2 separate regions of the Homo sapiens genome follow, and region 2 is linked to region 1. Evidence: fine-mapped expression QTL. Tissue or cell type: prefrontal cortex. Region 1 holds a variant in brackets; the other region holds the start of a gene. All regions are shown on one strand. Distances are between the middles of the regions.

What was found. PIP is the estimated chance that this variant, and not a neighbour inherited with it, causes the effect.
Region 2: ANKRD65 starts here. The variant in region 1 is the best candidate, but not a certain one, in a credible set for the expression of ANKRD65 in prefrontal cortex (ROSMAP, PIP 0.81).

What each region holds. Positions count from the first base shown.
Region 1 is chr1:1,359,816-1,366,096 of GRCh38, forward strand. It overlaps a transcript of MXRA8 not described here. Among named protein-coding and RNA genes, the nearest start is that of MXRA8, 4.4 kb to the left of the region's middle. The variant C/T (reference allele first, on the strand shown) is at 2,227.
Region 2 is chr1:1,418,626-1,425,041 of GRCh38, forward strand. It overlaps ANKRD65 (ankyrin repeat domain 65), which reads right to left and starts at 2,651. Exons shown (of 4, transcript NM_001145210.3): 1 at 2,508-2,651; 2 at 2,172-2,380; 3 at 1,427-1,967; 4 at 1-924. The coding sequence starts at 2,380. The coding sequence ends at 475. ANKRD65-AS1 (ANKRD65 antisense RNA 1) reads left to right here and starts at 1,541. Exons shown (of 2, transcript NR_187360.1): 1 at 1,541-1,939; 2 at 3,844-4,662. RefSeq lists an enhancer at 1-320.

The DNA of each region.
Region 1 (6,281 bases):
CCCCCACTCCCTCCCTGGGCCTTTCATTCTGGAAAAACAAGCCCCACCTGGCTGGCCTCGAGGCCTCTGCTGGCCTCTCCTCCTGTTTTTCCAACTGGTTTGTATTAGTGCTGGCAGCTGCCCGCCCGCCCATGTCTGTCTCCGTCGCACACTCTGGGGCCTTGGCCTCTGCAGTCTCTGTCTCCTTCCGTCACTCTCCCTGTTCCCTCTCTCCCCATGGAGGGAGGACGGACAGCAGTTTGGTGGGGGGACAGGGTTGGCCCTCGGGTCTGGGAGGGCCCGGCTCTGGGTGCAGGGCTGAGAGGGGCGCCTGGTCCGCACGACAGCCTCAGGCCAGGGCTCGCCTCACTCTGCAGGGCCGTCCCTCTCCGGGCAGTGGCCTCCAGCCACACTTTCGGGGACCCAGCCAGCGGAGATGCAGGCCAGAGGCTGTCGTCTGAGAGGGCCCTGACCTCTGAGAGGGCCACCTGGGGGCAGCTGACCCCCATGGGGCCCTGGGCAAGGAACAAAAGGCTGATGAGGCCATCAGGCCCCTTCCCTGACCCTCCCTGTCCGGCCCTCAGTGGGAAACAGCCACAGAGAAGAGCAGGCCTGGTAGTGACCAGGTCACCTGCTCCTCCCAGGGCCAGTGACCTGTGCCTCTTCTGCACCTTCCTGGGCTGGGACTGTGGAGCCTCTGCTCGCTGGGGGGTGGTCTGCAGAGCTGTGGGTGTGTGACTTAATTCCCAGCCTGGCCTGGCATTTTTCTCCCTCTGGGAAGAGGACAAACCAGGACAAAGCCACTGGCATCACTGTGCTCTGGCTAAGCCCCCAGCCAAACCAGCGCCCTGGACCGTCCTCCTAGCCCCACCTCTGGGGGTTGGGGTGGAGCAAGAGGGGTCAGCTGGCCCCACGGCCCGCACTGAGGATCTGATCTTGGCTGCCATTCCTGGTGACTCGGACATTCCAGGCAGCCCGTCTCATTGGGAAGAAAAACCACAGGCACTCAGAGCCACAAGCAGCACAGCCAAGCCCATATTCACTCCCATGAGTGTGCACAGACACATGCACACACACACAAAGACACACATGGAGACACACAGAGATACACACGCATGCACACGAAGACACATGGAGACACAGACACGCATGCACATGAAGACACGGAGACACACAGAGATACACGGAAACACAGACACATGCACACACGCGAAGACACAGACACATACACATGCATGCACATGAAGACACGGAGACACAGATACATGGAAACACGAACACAGACATGCGCACACACGACACACATGGAGACACGCATGCATGCACATGAAGACACACGGACACACAGAGAAGATACACGGAAACACAAACACACAGACACAGGTCCACACACAGAAACAGAGACACACACAGACACACATGGAAAGACACACACAGAGACACGGACCTGTGGCCGCACAGCGGATCATCGATGGCTGAAGAGTCCCACTTCCTGTCGTTCAGAAGCGTTTGCTGACCACCTCCTGGGTGCCAGGCTTGCTGGGCACTGGGGACTCAGCACTAAGCCGGGTGCCAGCCATGGCCCTCTTGGACCCCAGCCTCCTGGACTGTGCTGCATGTGGTGGAGGGAATGAGACAGGGGTCGGGGGGCGCCCAGGCTGGAGGGGCGAGGACGGACGGACCCAAGGAAGCAACCTCTGTGACAGCAAATGCCAGGCGAGGCCTGAGGACGCGGCTTCCAGGCGCAGCCAGTGGCGGGGCTGCCAGGAGTGGTCTTGGGACGCCAGGGACCCTGTGTGTGTGGTAGGGGGGCCACTGCTGACACCAACACAGACAGGGTTAGGCTCGAGGACAAACCGTATTCGCCGCCGCCGCACCTGCCACGCACATCGGAAGCGTTAGCACAGTTTTCCCTGCGTGGGGCTGGGTCTCCTACCCAGGCTGAGTTTCTCCCCTCTAAGAGGAAACACCGCCAGCCTTCTTTCTCCTACGGCCTTTGGATTCTGAAAACTCGCTGTGGGGAGGGACGTGAGGCTTCGGCACCAGGAACCCCTGCGGGCTAAGACGGTGTTGGCCAATCACATCCAGTCACTCTCCTGGGAAAGTCACTTTTATGGAGACAGCCCCCCAAGGGGGTCTCAAGATATATTGAAGTTTTGGTTAGTTATGTATGCTGACTAAATTTACAAGTAAACTTGTTTATCAAAAACAAAAGAAAATGTGTTAATCCGTTATAGCCGCTTGTGG[C/T]GACTGTTCCCGGCCATGTCCCTGGCTGACTGTTTTCCTGCTGATCCTGACCAGCGTCCCCGGCAGCCATGGCCTGCATTCGTGTTGGTCCCTCCTCCTGCAGCCCCGAGGAGGCAGGGCTGTCTGTGGATCCCAGATCGGTTGTCGGAAGGCCCGGAAGAGGAGAGCTGCCCTCCACCACCACTGTCTCCTCCTCCTGGACAACAGAGTCAGGACACTGCTGAGATGGGGTGAAGCATAATTGTTGCACTGAGACTCAAAACTACAGGCAAGAAGGTTTGAAAATACAGAAACATTTCACAAATCATCTGCCTCCTCTCGAGTAGTATCTGGCTTGTTCTAAACATGCAAATGCAGTGAGACGGGCTGCCTGGTACACACACATCGCCCCGGAATCATGACCTTAGGCCCCAGGGCCACCTTCTGTAATTTTTTTTTTTTAAGCCACAAAGTCTCGGCCAGGCAAGATGGTTCACGCCTGTAATCCCAGCACTTTGGGAGGCCAAGGTGGGCAGATCACCTGAGGTCAGGAGTTCAAGACCATCCTGGCCAACATGGTGAAACCCTGTCTCTACTAAAAATACAAAAAATTAGCCAGGCGTGGTGGCAGGTGCCTGTAGTCCCAGCTACTTGGGAGGCTGAGGCAAGAGAATTACTTGAACCCGGGAGGTGGAGGTTGCAGTGAGCCGAGATCGTGCCGTTGCATTCCAGCCTGGGAAACAGAGTGAGACTCCATCTCAAAAAAAAAAAAAAAAAAAAGGGTTGGGCGCGGTGGCTCACATCGGTAATCCCAGCACCTTGGGAGGCCGAGGTGGGTGGATCACAAGGTCAAGAGATGGAGACCATCCTGGCCAACATGGTGAAACCCCGTCTCTACTAAAAATACAAAAAATTAGCCAGGCGTGGTGGCAGGTGCCTGTAGTTCCAGCTACTTGGGAGGCTGAGGCAGGAGAATCACTTGAACCTGGGGGATGGAGGTTGCAGTCAGCCGAGATTGCACCACTGCACTCCAGCCTGGTGATAGGGCGAGACTCCGTCTCAAAAAAAAAAAAAGAAAGGAGTGAAACCCCATCTCTACTAAAAATACAAAAATTATCCGGGTGTGGTGGTGTGCACCTGTAGTCCGAGCTACTCCAAGGGCTGAGGCAGAAGAACTGCTTGAACCTGGGAGGCAAAGGTTGCAGTGAGCCGAGATTGTGCCATTGCACTCCAGCCTGGGCGACAGAGTGAGACTCGGTCTCAAAAACAAAACAAAAGGACAGGGTCTCACTGTGTCACCCAGGCTGAAGGGCAGTGGTGCAAACATCTTGGCCCACTGCAGCCTCAAATTCCTGGCCTCAAGCGATCCTCGGCCTCTCAAAGCAATGGGATTACAGGCGAGATCCATCAGTTTTTTCTTTTTTTTTTTTTGAGACAGAGTTTTGTTCTTTTGCTCAGGATGGAGAGCAGTGGTGCAATCTCAGAATCACCGCAACCTCTGCCTTCCAGTTTCAAGCTATTCTCCTGCCTCAGCCTCCCGAGTAGCTGGGATTACAGGTGCCCGCCACCACGCCTGGCTAATTTTTTTTTTTTTTTTTGAGATGGAGTCTCGATCTGTTGCCCAGGCTGGAGAGCAGTGGCGCAATCTCTGCTCACTGCAAGCTCCACCTTCTGGGTTCATGCCATTCTCCTGCCTCAGCCTCCCGAGTAGCTGGGACTACAGGCGCCCGCCACCACATCTGGCTAATTTTTTGTATTTTTTTTAGTAGAGACGGGGTTTCGCCGTGTTAGCCACGACGGTCTTGATCTCCTGACCTCATGATCCACCCGCCTCAGCCTCCCAAAGTGCTGGGATTACAAGCGTGAGCCACTGCACCCGGCTTTTTTTCTCTTTTTTTGAGATGAAGTCTCGTTCTGTCGCCCAGGCTGGAGTGCAGTGGCGCAATCTCGACTCACTGCAACCTCCGCCTCCCGGGTTCAAGCAGTTCTCCTGCCTCGGCCTCTGGAGTAGCTGGGATTACAGGTGTGCACCACCACACCCAGCTAATTTTTGTATTTTTAGTAGAGACAGGGTTTCACCATGTTGGTCAGGCTGGTCTCAAACTCCTGACCTTGTGATCCACCTGCCTCAGCCTCCCAAAGTGCTGGGATTACAGGCATGAGCCACCACGCCCGGCGAATTTTTGTATTTTTAGTACAGACGGGGTTTCAATGTGTTGGCCAGGCTAGTCTCGAACTGCTGACCTCGTGAGCCACCCACCTCGGCCTCCCAAAGTTCTGGGATTAGAGGTGTGAGACACCATGCCTGATCAATTTTAAAATCGGGAACAAAGAACACTGAGTGCTGCCAGTTACCTGCGGTGGCTCCACCTGCAGGGTCAGACTCCACCTCTGGGACTCTGCATCCGCCTCCCTTCCCGGCTGGGCACGTCTTAGGGCAGCTGTCACACCAGCCTCAGGCGAGGGCCAGGCCACGGCTGCCACATGGAATGCACATCCTGGATCCTCCGTGGTGGCTTCTCCCTCCTCACCAAGGGAGGTCGGCTGTTACATGTAACATTTCTACCTTGGTTATAATTACAAATTTGATGTACGCAATTATGATAGAAAAATCGGCTGGGTGCGGTGGCTCACTCCTATAATCCCAGCACTTTGGGAGGTGGAGGCAGGAGGTTTAAGCCCAGGATTATGGAGACCAGGCGGGACAATATAGCAAGACCCAGTCAAAAATAAAAAAATAAGGCCAGGCTCACCCCTATAATCCCAGCATTTTGGGAGGCCAAGGCAGGCAAATCACCTGAGGTCAGGAGTTCGAGACCAGTCTGGCCAACATGGTGAAACCCCCATCTCTACTAAAAATACAAAAATTAGCTGGGGATGGTGGCATATGCCTGTAATCCCACCTATTCAAGAGACTGAGGCAGGATAATCTCTTGAACCTAGGAGGCAGAGGTTGCAGTGAGCCAAGATCACACCACTGCACTCTAGCCTGGGTGACAGAGTGAGACTCTATATTAAAAAAAAAAAAGCCAGGCGTGGTGGCTCACCCCTGTAATCCCAGCACTTTGGGACACTGAGTGGGGGCGGATTACCTGAGGTCGAGAGTTCAAGACCAGCCTGGCCAACATGGAGAAATCCCATCTAAAAATACAAAAATTAGCCGGGTATGGTGGTGCACGCCTGTAATCCCAGCTACTCGGGAGGCTGAGGCAGGAGAATCGCTTGAACCTGGGAGATGGAGGTTGAGGTGAGCCAAGATTGCAGCATTGCACTCCAGCCTGGGGAACAAGAGTGAAACTCTGTCTCAAAAACAAAATAAAAAACAAAAATAAGGCTGGGCATGGTGGCTCATGCCTGTAATCCTACCACTTTGGGAGGCTGAGGTGGGCAGATGACCTGAGGTCGGGAGTTCAAGACCAGCCTGACCAACATGGAGAAACCCCAGCTCTACTAAAAATACAAAATTAGCCGGGCATGGTGGTGGGCACCTGAACTCCCAGCTACTCTGGAGGCTGAGGCAGGAGAATCACTTGAACCCAGGGGGCGGAGGTTGCGATGAGCTGAGATCGTGCCATTGTATTCAGCCTGGGCAACAAGAGCAAAACTCCCTCTCAAAAATAAATAAATAAATAAAAATAAAAATAAAAAAATTAGCTGGGCATGATGGTGCACGCCTGAAGTCCCAGCTACTCTGGAGGCTGAGGCAGGAGAATCGCCTGAACCCAGGAGGCAGAGGTTGCAGTGAGCTGAGATTGCACCATTGCACTCCAGCCTGGGTGACAAAGCAAGACTTTGTCTCAAAAAAAATAAATAAAAATAAAAATTAGGCCAGGTGTAGTGGTGCACACTTGTGATCCCAGCTAGGAAAGGCTGTGACAGGATGGCCTGAGCCTGGGAGGGGAGGACGAGTATGAGCGTGAGAATGATTGTGAAAGGATGACTATAAATTGAGTGTGAATTAGTGAATTGGTGAGTGTGAAGTAGTGCAGATGGGTGTGAATTCGTGAGACTGTGTGTGAATGAGTGTGGATGGGTGTGAACTGGTGATTGTGCATTTGTGAATTGGTGTGAATTGT
Region 2 (6,416 bases), 59 kb after region 1:
AGGGAGTTTCACAAATGTTCTTCTATACAATGTCTGGAATCTATGAATAACATCGGTTTCTAAGTTATGAATTGATTTTCAACTACTGGGTTTAGGCCAGGCAGGCGCAGGCCTGGTTTCGGGCCTAGCGCCAGGCTGCCTGCCTGTCTTTGGTTTTACTTCCTTGTTGTTTTTTCTTAAAACAGGTACTGAGTATAAAACACTATGAGAGGGTCTCTCTTCCCTCATTGCCACAACTCATTCTTTGTTGAAGTATGGAGAAGGCTGGAGCTGCAGGGTCAGTGGGCCCTCCTGGGAGCTGGGGGCCATCCCTGGTCCAGCCAAGGCCTGTGACTGCAGCTCAAGCCACATCCCCTACTTTCTCCCATCCCCTCCTCCGGAAGCCTCTTCCCTGATGTCCCCTCCAGGCAGGCAGCCTCAGCCAGAGAGCCTGGAAATCACTGGGGCGGTGGAGCCTGGAGCCTGCTGTCTGGCTCAGCCCGTGGACTCTATGCCCTCACACTCCTTCTCCCCCCCTCCAAGTTCAGGCAGCGCCTGGGGCAGGTCCCCCTCAGGCATCTGGGCCACCTCGGCCCACTGCGTCCGCAGAGTGGGGCTGGCCCCTCGGCTCAGCAGAAGCCCCACGGTAGGCCCATGCCCTCGCTCTGCAGCCAGGTGTAGGGGGGTCTTTCGGAGCCAGCCGGTAGCATCCACCTGGGCACCCCTGTCCAGCAGGCAGCCGGCAACCTCCACGTGGCCTTCCCGAGAGGCGTGATGCAGGGGTGTGAGGCCCAGGGTGTCCCGCGCATCCACCTCGGCCCCCTGGGTGACCAGCAACTGGACGGCAAGCAGGTGTCCTCGGGCGGCAGCCCTGTGCAGCGCAGAGCGGCCATGCCTGTCCCTGATGCCTGGGTCTGCCCCGTGGCCCAGCAGCACCTCAATGTCCTAGAAGAGGAGAGAAAAGCAGGGGCCGGCCTCAGCCCGGTAGGCGAGGGGCAGAGCCACCAGGCGTTTGCCCAGCCCAGGCCTCTTCTGTCCCCGCAGCGGCCTGTCTCTCCTGACACCACTTCCTCATGTTGTGAGGCCGAACCCAAGGCTGGCCTGCTTGGAAACGTCCACTTTTCCCCCTAAGAGTCCTTAGAGCAAATCCAAGGATCTGCAGCCAACACCCTGCCCGCTGCCCAGGAACGGGGGTCTCAGGCACAGGCCCGGCGCTGGCGGAGAGTCTGTTGCTGCCACCAGCATGAAGCCGAGCCCCGGGCCTCGGATCCCGCCCTGGTCTCCACGGGACGGGGCTACACCGGAGGGGCACAGCCGGGGGCGCGCTCAGGGCCTTCGTGCCTGGACACCGTCCCCCAGCCTGGCTCCAGCTGCCCCGGTGGCACGTCTCTGGGGATCCTGGCCCTGCGCCCCCTCCCATCACTGCCGGGCGGAGGGCGGGACGTACCTGGGAGCGGCCTAGGGCGGCCGCCAGACCCAGCGCTGTGGCCCCCGCGCCATCCCGGGCGTCCACCCGCGCCCCGCGCGCCAGGAGGAAGCGCAGCGCCGCCCCGCGCCCCGCAGCGGCAGCCACGAGCAGGGCGCCGTCCAGGCCCGCGCCGCCGGCCGCCAGCAGCTCCAGCACCGCCAGCCGCCCGCCCGCGGCCGCCCAGTGCGCCGCCGTCCAGCCGCGCGCGTCCTCCGCCTCCGCTGCCGCGGGTCCCGGGCCCGGAGCCTCCAGCAGGCGCGCGGCCAGCAGCGTGTGGCCCAGGGCAGCGGCCCAGTGCAGCGGCGTGAGGCCCGTCCCGGAGCGAGCCGCCGCCGAGGCCCCGCGCTGCAGCAGCAGCTCGGCCACCCGCGAGTGTCCGTGCCAGGCGGCCTCGTGCAGCGCGGTGCGCCCCGCCCGGTCCACCGCGCCCACCGGGGCCCCTCGCTGCAGCAGGAGACGCACCAGGGGCGCGTGGCCCCGCAGCACGGCCAGGTGGAGCGGGGTCCGGCCTGCGTGGTCCCTGAGGAGGGGGCAAGGGCGTCGGCGCGGGGGTGGACCACTGACCAGAACCCCGCCCTGCCCCACCCCGTCCTGCCGCCCACCCAGCGCTGGGACCCCCGTCCTACCCCATCCAGAGAAGGGACTCCTCCACCCACCCAGTGCTGGGACCCCCATCCTGCCCCACCCAGAGAAGGGACCCCTTCACCCCCCAGCGCAGGTGCACCTCTCCTCCACGCTGGCACCTTGCCGCAGCAGCTGCGTCACCAGGCCTGCAGGGCCCCTCCACACGGCCTGGAGCAGGTGCCCCCAGCCCTGGACAACACTAGGCCCCTCTGTCCTGGTTCCCAGGGCCTCTTCGGAGTCCAGCTCCATCCACCGCAGTTCCTGTTCCTCCTCCTCCTCCTCTCTGGGCTCAGGCCTCTGGGAGTCCATCTGGGGGGGAGCAGGGATCCTACATCCACTGTGGAGGCCTCTGGCCTGCCCCCAGCCGTGTCCCAGGCCAACTGGAGCCCCCCATTCCAGTTACCACTTAGCCTTCAGAGGGGCTTGGCTCTGTTACCCAAGGGAGCTGGCTCAGGAGCTTTCTGCTCTGGCTGAGGGTCCTCTGTAGACGGGTTCTGGCCGAGGCTCAGCCTGGTGACCCTCTTCACAAAATCCCTTCTGCAGGCTTTGGGGTGGAGTGTCTGCTGCTGAAAAGCTGAATGGTGGCAGCTTCAGCCTTGCAGGGGGTGGGAGAACACAGCTGGTCCCCTGGGCCAGGCTGAGGCCACCTGACGCTGTTTACTCAGCCACTTAGGAAGGCCCTGCCTTCGGGCACAGCCCCCTGTCCAACATACTCCCTCCCCTGCTGGCTGCCAGGGCCCCAGTTCGGCTGCCCTCCTGGGGAACAAAGGCCAGGCGGTTGGGGAGGACAAGCAGGAACATGCTTGTGGACGAAAGTTGCTCAGACGCCACCTCCCCCAGGAAGCGCAGCCTTGGATGTACCCCGATGTGCCCCTGGAAGGCCTCACAGGGCTCTCCATGGGGCCCACCCTCGGGCAGCCCCCTCACCCACTCCTGTCCCAGCTGGCTAAGCCCACCCAGGGGTGGGTGCCGGCCCCTCCTCCCGATTCCAGGCTGGGGAGGAGGGCAGGGTGAGGTTCTGGCCTTCCTTTCTGTAAATGCTGGACAGGACAAAAGATTCACCAAGGACTCCAGGCAGGTGGCCTGGAAAAGAGGGTGGCGCTGGCATGGGAGGGACGAAAACCCTTTGGGGACTGGCTGGGGCAAGTCTGGAGCCAGGGAAGGGACAGATGCCTGGGCAGGTGGGGGCGGGGGTCGGGGGGCAGGCGGGAGAGTGGGGAGAATCCCTGCTAGGGTGCGTCTGCATCTGGAAAAGCAGCTCTGCCCCAGCAAGGCCTGGGGCAGCGGGATCCTGGGGGCCTGGGGCAGGATGGGTGGGGCTGGTGCTGAGGGCATCTTCCTGTCTCCCAGTACCTGGGGCCAGGCAGGAGAAGGGAGCATGGCTCTTTGGGGTGGCTGCAGCAGCCTGGCCCCTCCAGCGGCTGCACGGGAAAGGTAATGAGGGCTACCCATTCCCACCCCAGCCCCCTTCAGCCTCCCAGGTCCCCAAGGACAGGGTCTCCTGAGGGCCCTGGTCTGGCCTCCCCCACTCCCTAGAGGACTGCCTCTCCAAGGGCCCAAGGGACCAGGGGCCCCATCCCACCACCCCCCAAGCCACACAGACCCTGCCCTACAAACCTCATCAGGCTACTCATCCGTCACCTTCCCAGATCCTGACCACAGGTGGATCTGAGGCAACGTGCGACTCTAACCCTGTTTTAGTTTGTTCTTAGCATTTATCACTACAGGAAAGTATCTATGTGTTTATTTAAATGTCTGCCTTCCTCTTCTAGAAGGAAAGCTCCGTAAGGCTGACCGGGAAAGAAGCGAGGAGCTCTGGGGGCTGGGTGGAAAGTCCCGTACTCATCAGGGCCAGGGAGGCCACAGAAACTACCTCACGCCAGCTTCCCAGGGGTACAGCGGCTAGAATGGACCTCGAGGAGGCCCCTCCCAAGACTCCCGTCTCCCGGGTTCCACCGCAGTGGGGGCAGCCACAGCTGCCTCTGCAATGCTTGTAGGACCCACACACAGTGGGGCACGGAGGGGCAGAGGCCGCAGCCCCTTTGCCATGAATCCAAAGAACCTGGAGTGATTCTGCAGAGACGTTCGAACCAGAGCGACTCCATCTTGAACAGGGGCTGGGTAAAATGAGGCCGAGACCGGCTGGGCCGCATTCCCTGGAGGTCAGGCATTCTTAGTCACAGGATGAGATCAGCACAAGATACAGATCACAAAGACCCCGCTGATAAAACAGGATGCCGTGAAGAAGCCGGCCCCAAACCACCAAAACCAAGACAGCCAGTCCTCACTGCTCATTATGTGCTGATTATAATACATTAGCATGAGACACGCCCACCAGCACCAGGACCATTTACAGTTGCCATGGCAATGCCGGGAAGTTACCCTAGATGGTCTAAAAGGGGGAAGAACCCTCACTTCCGGGAATTGCCTGCCCCTTTCCCGGAAAAGTCCGGAATAATCCACACCATGTTTAGTACATATCAAGAAACAACAATAAGTGTTCTCGTCGGAGTAGCCCAGGCCGCTGCTCAGCCTATGGGGCAGCCCTTCTCTTATTCCTTTACTTTCCTATTAAACTTGCTTTCAGTTTACTCCGTGGACTCCCCCGAATTCTTCCTTGTGTGGGGTCCAAGAACCCTCTCTCGGGGTCTGGATCGGGACCTCCTTTTCCGATGACAGTCCCTGGGACTTAGTAGCAGTTCAGCAGTGTTTGTTGAATGAATAAGCGAGAGACCTGGTTGGGGGGCACTTAGAAAGCAGAGGTTTTGCAACTTTTTAAAACTTTTTATTTGTATTTTTGAGACGGAGTCTCACTCTGTCACTCAGGCTGGAGTGCAGTGGTGTGATCTCAGCTCACTTGGAACCACCATCTGCCAGTTTCAAGTGATTCTCCTGCCTCAGCCTCCCAAGTAGCTGGGATTATAGGCACCCACCGCCATGACCGGCTAATTTTTGTATTTTTAGTAAAGACAGGGTTTCACCATGTTGGCCAGGCTGGTCTCCTGACCTCAAGTGATCCGCCTTCCACAGGTTCCCAAAATGCTGGGATTACAGGCGCCCACCACCATGCCTGGCTAACTTTTTTTTTTTTTTTTTTTTTTTTGAGATGGATTCTCGCTCTGTTGCCCAGGCTGGAGTGCAATGGTTTGATCTCGGCTCACTGCAACCTCCTCCTCCCGGGTTCAAACAATTCTCCTGTCTCAGCTTCCCGAGTAGCAGGTACTACAGGCACGTGTCAACAGGCCCAGCTAAGTTTTGTATTTTTTTTTTTTTTAAGACAGGAGGTTTCACCATACTGGTCAGGCTGGTCTCGAACTCCTGACATCAGGTGATACACCCGCCTCAGCCTCCCAAAGTGCGGGATTACAGGCATGAGACACCGTGCCCGGCCTGATTTTTGTATTTGTAGCAGAGACGGGGTTTCACCAAATTGGCCAGGCTGGTCTCAAGCTCCTGACCTCAAGTGATCCACCCGCCTCAGCCTCCCAAAATGCTGGGATTACAGGTGTGAGCCACCGTGCCCAGCGCTGTAGGGACACTGCAGGGAGGCCTCTGCTGCCCTGCTAGATGTCACACGCCACATGGTACCACTCTCCTTCTTGTTCACAAGTCTGAAGGAAGTAGGTGAGCTGGAGAGGCCTGGAAGGTGTTGGAAGGGATGGAGCCCACTAGAAGGCCTCACAGGGAACGGCTCAGCTCACAGACACCTACTCCTGTCAATTAATTATGAACACGGAGCTGGAGGCTGGGCATAGTGGCTCACGTCTGTAATCCCAGCACTTTGGGAGGCCGAGGCGGGCAGATCACCTGAGGTTAGGAGTTTGAGACCATCCTGGCTAACACGGTGAAACCCCACCTCTACTAAAAATACAAAAATTAGCCGGGCGTGGTAGTGTGCGCCTGTAATCCCAGCTACTCGGGAGGCTGAGGCAGGAGGATTGCCTGAACCTGGAAAATGGAGGTTGCAGTGAGCCGAGATCGTGCCATTGCACTCCAGCCTGGGAAACAAGAGCAAAAAATTCCTCCTCGACAAAAAAAAAAGAAAGAAAAGAAAATGGAGCTGGAACTGCTGACGTGCAATAAAGCCCTGGGAGACGGACAGACGTCAGGGACTGTGCTGGGCGCGGGGGCTGATGCCTGTCATCCCAGCACTGTGGGAGGCCCAGGCAGGCAGATCACTTGACACCAGGAGTTCCAGACCAGTGTGGGCAACGTGACAAGATCCCATCTCTACAAAAAATACCAAAACTAGCCGGGCGCGGTGGTTAGGTGCCTGTAGTCCCAGCTATTTAGGAGGCTGAAGTGGGAGGACTGATCGAGTCCAGGAGGTCAAGGCTGCCGTAGC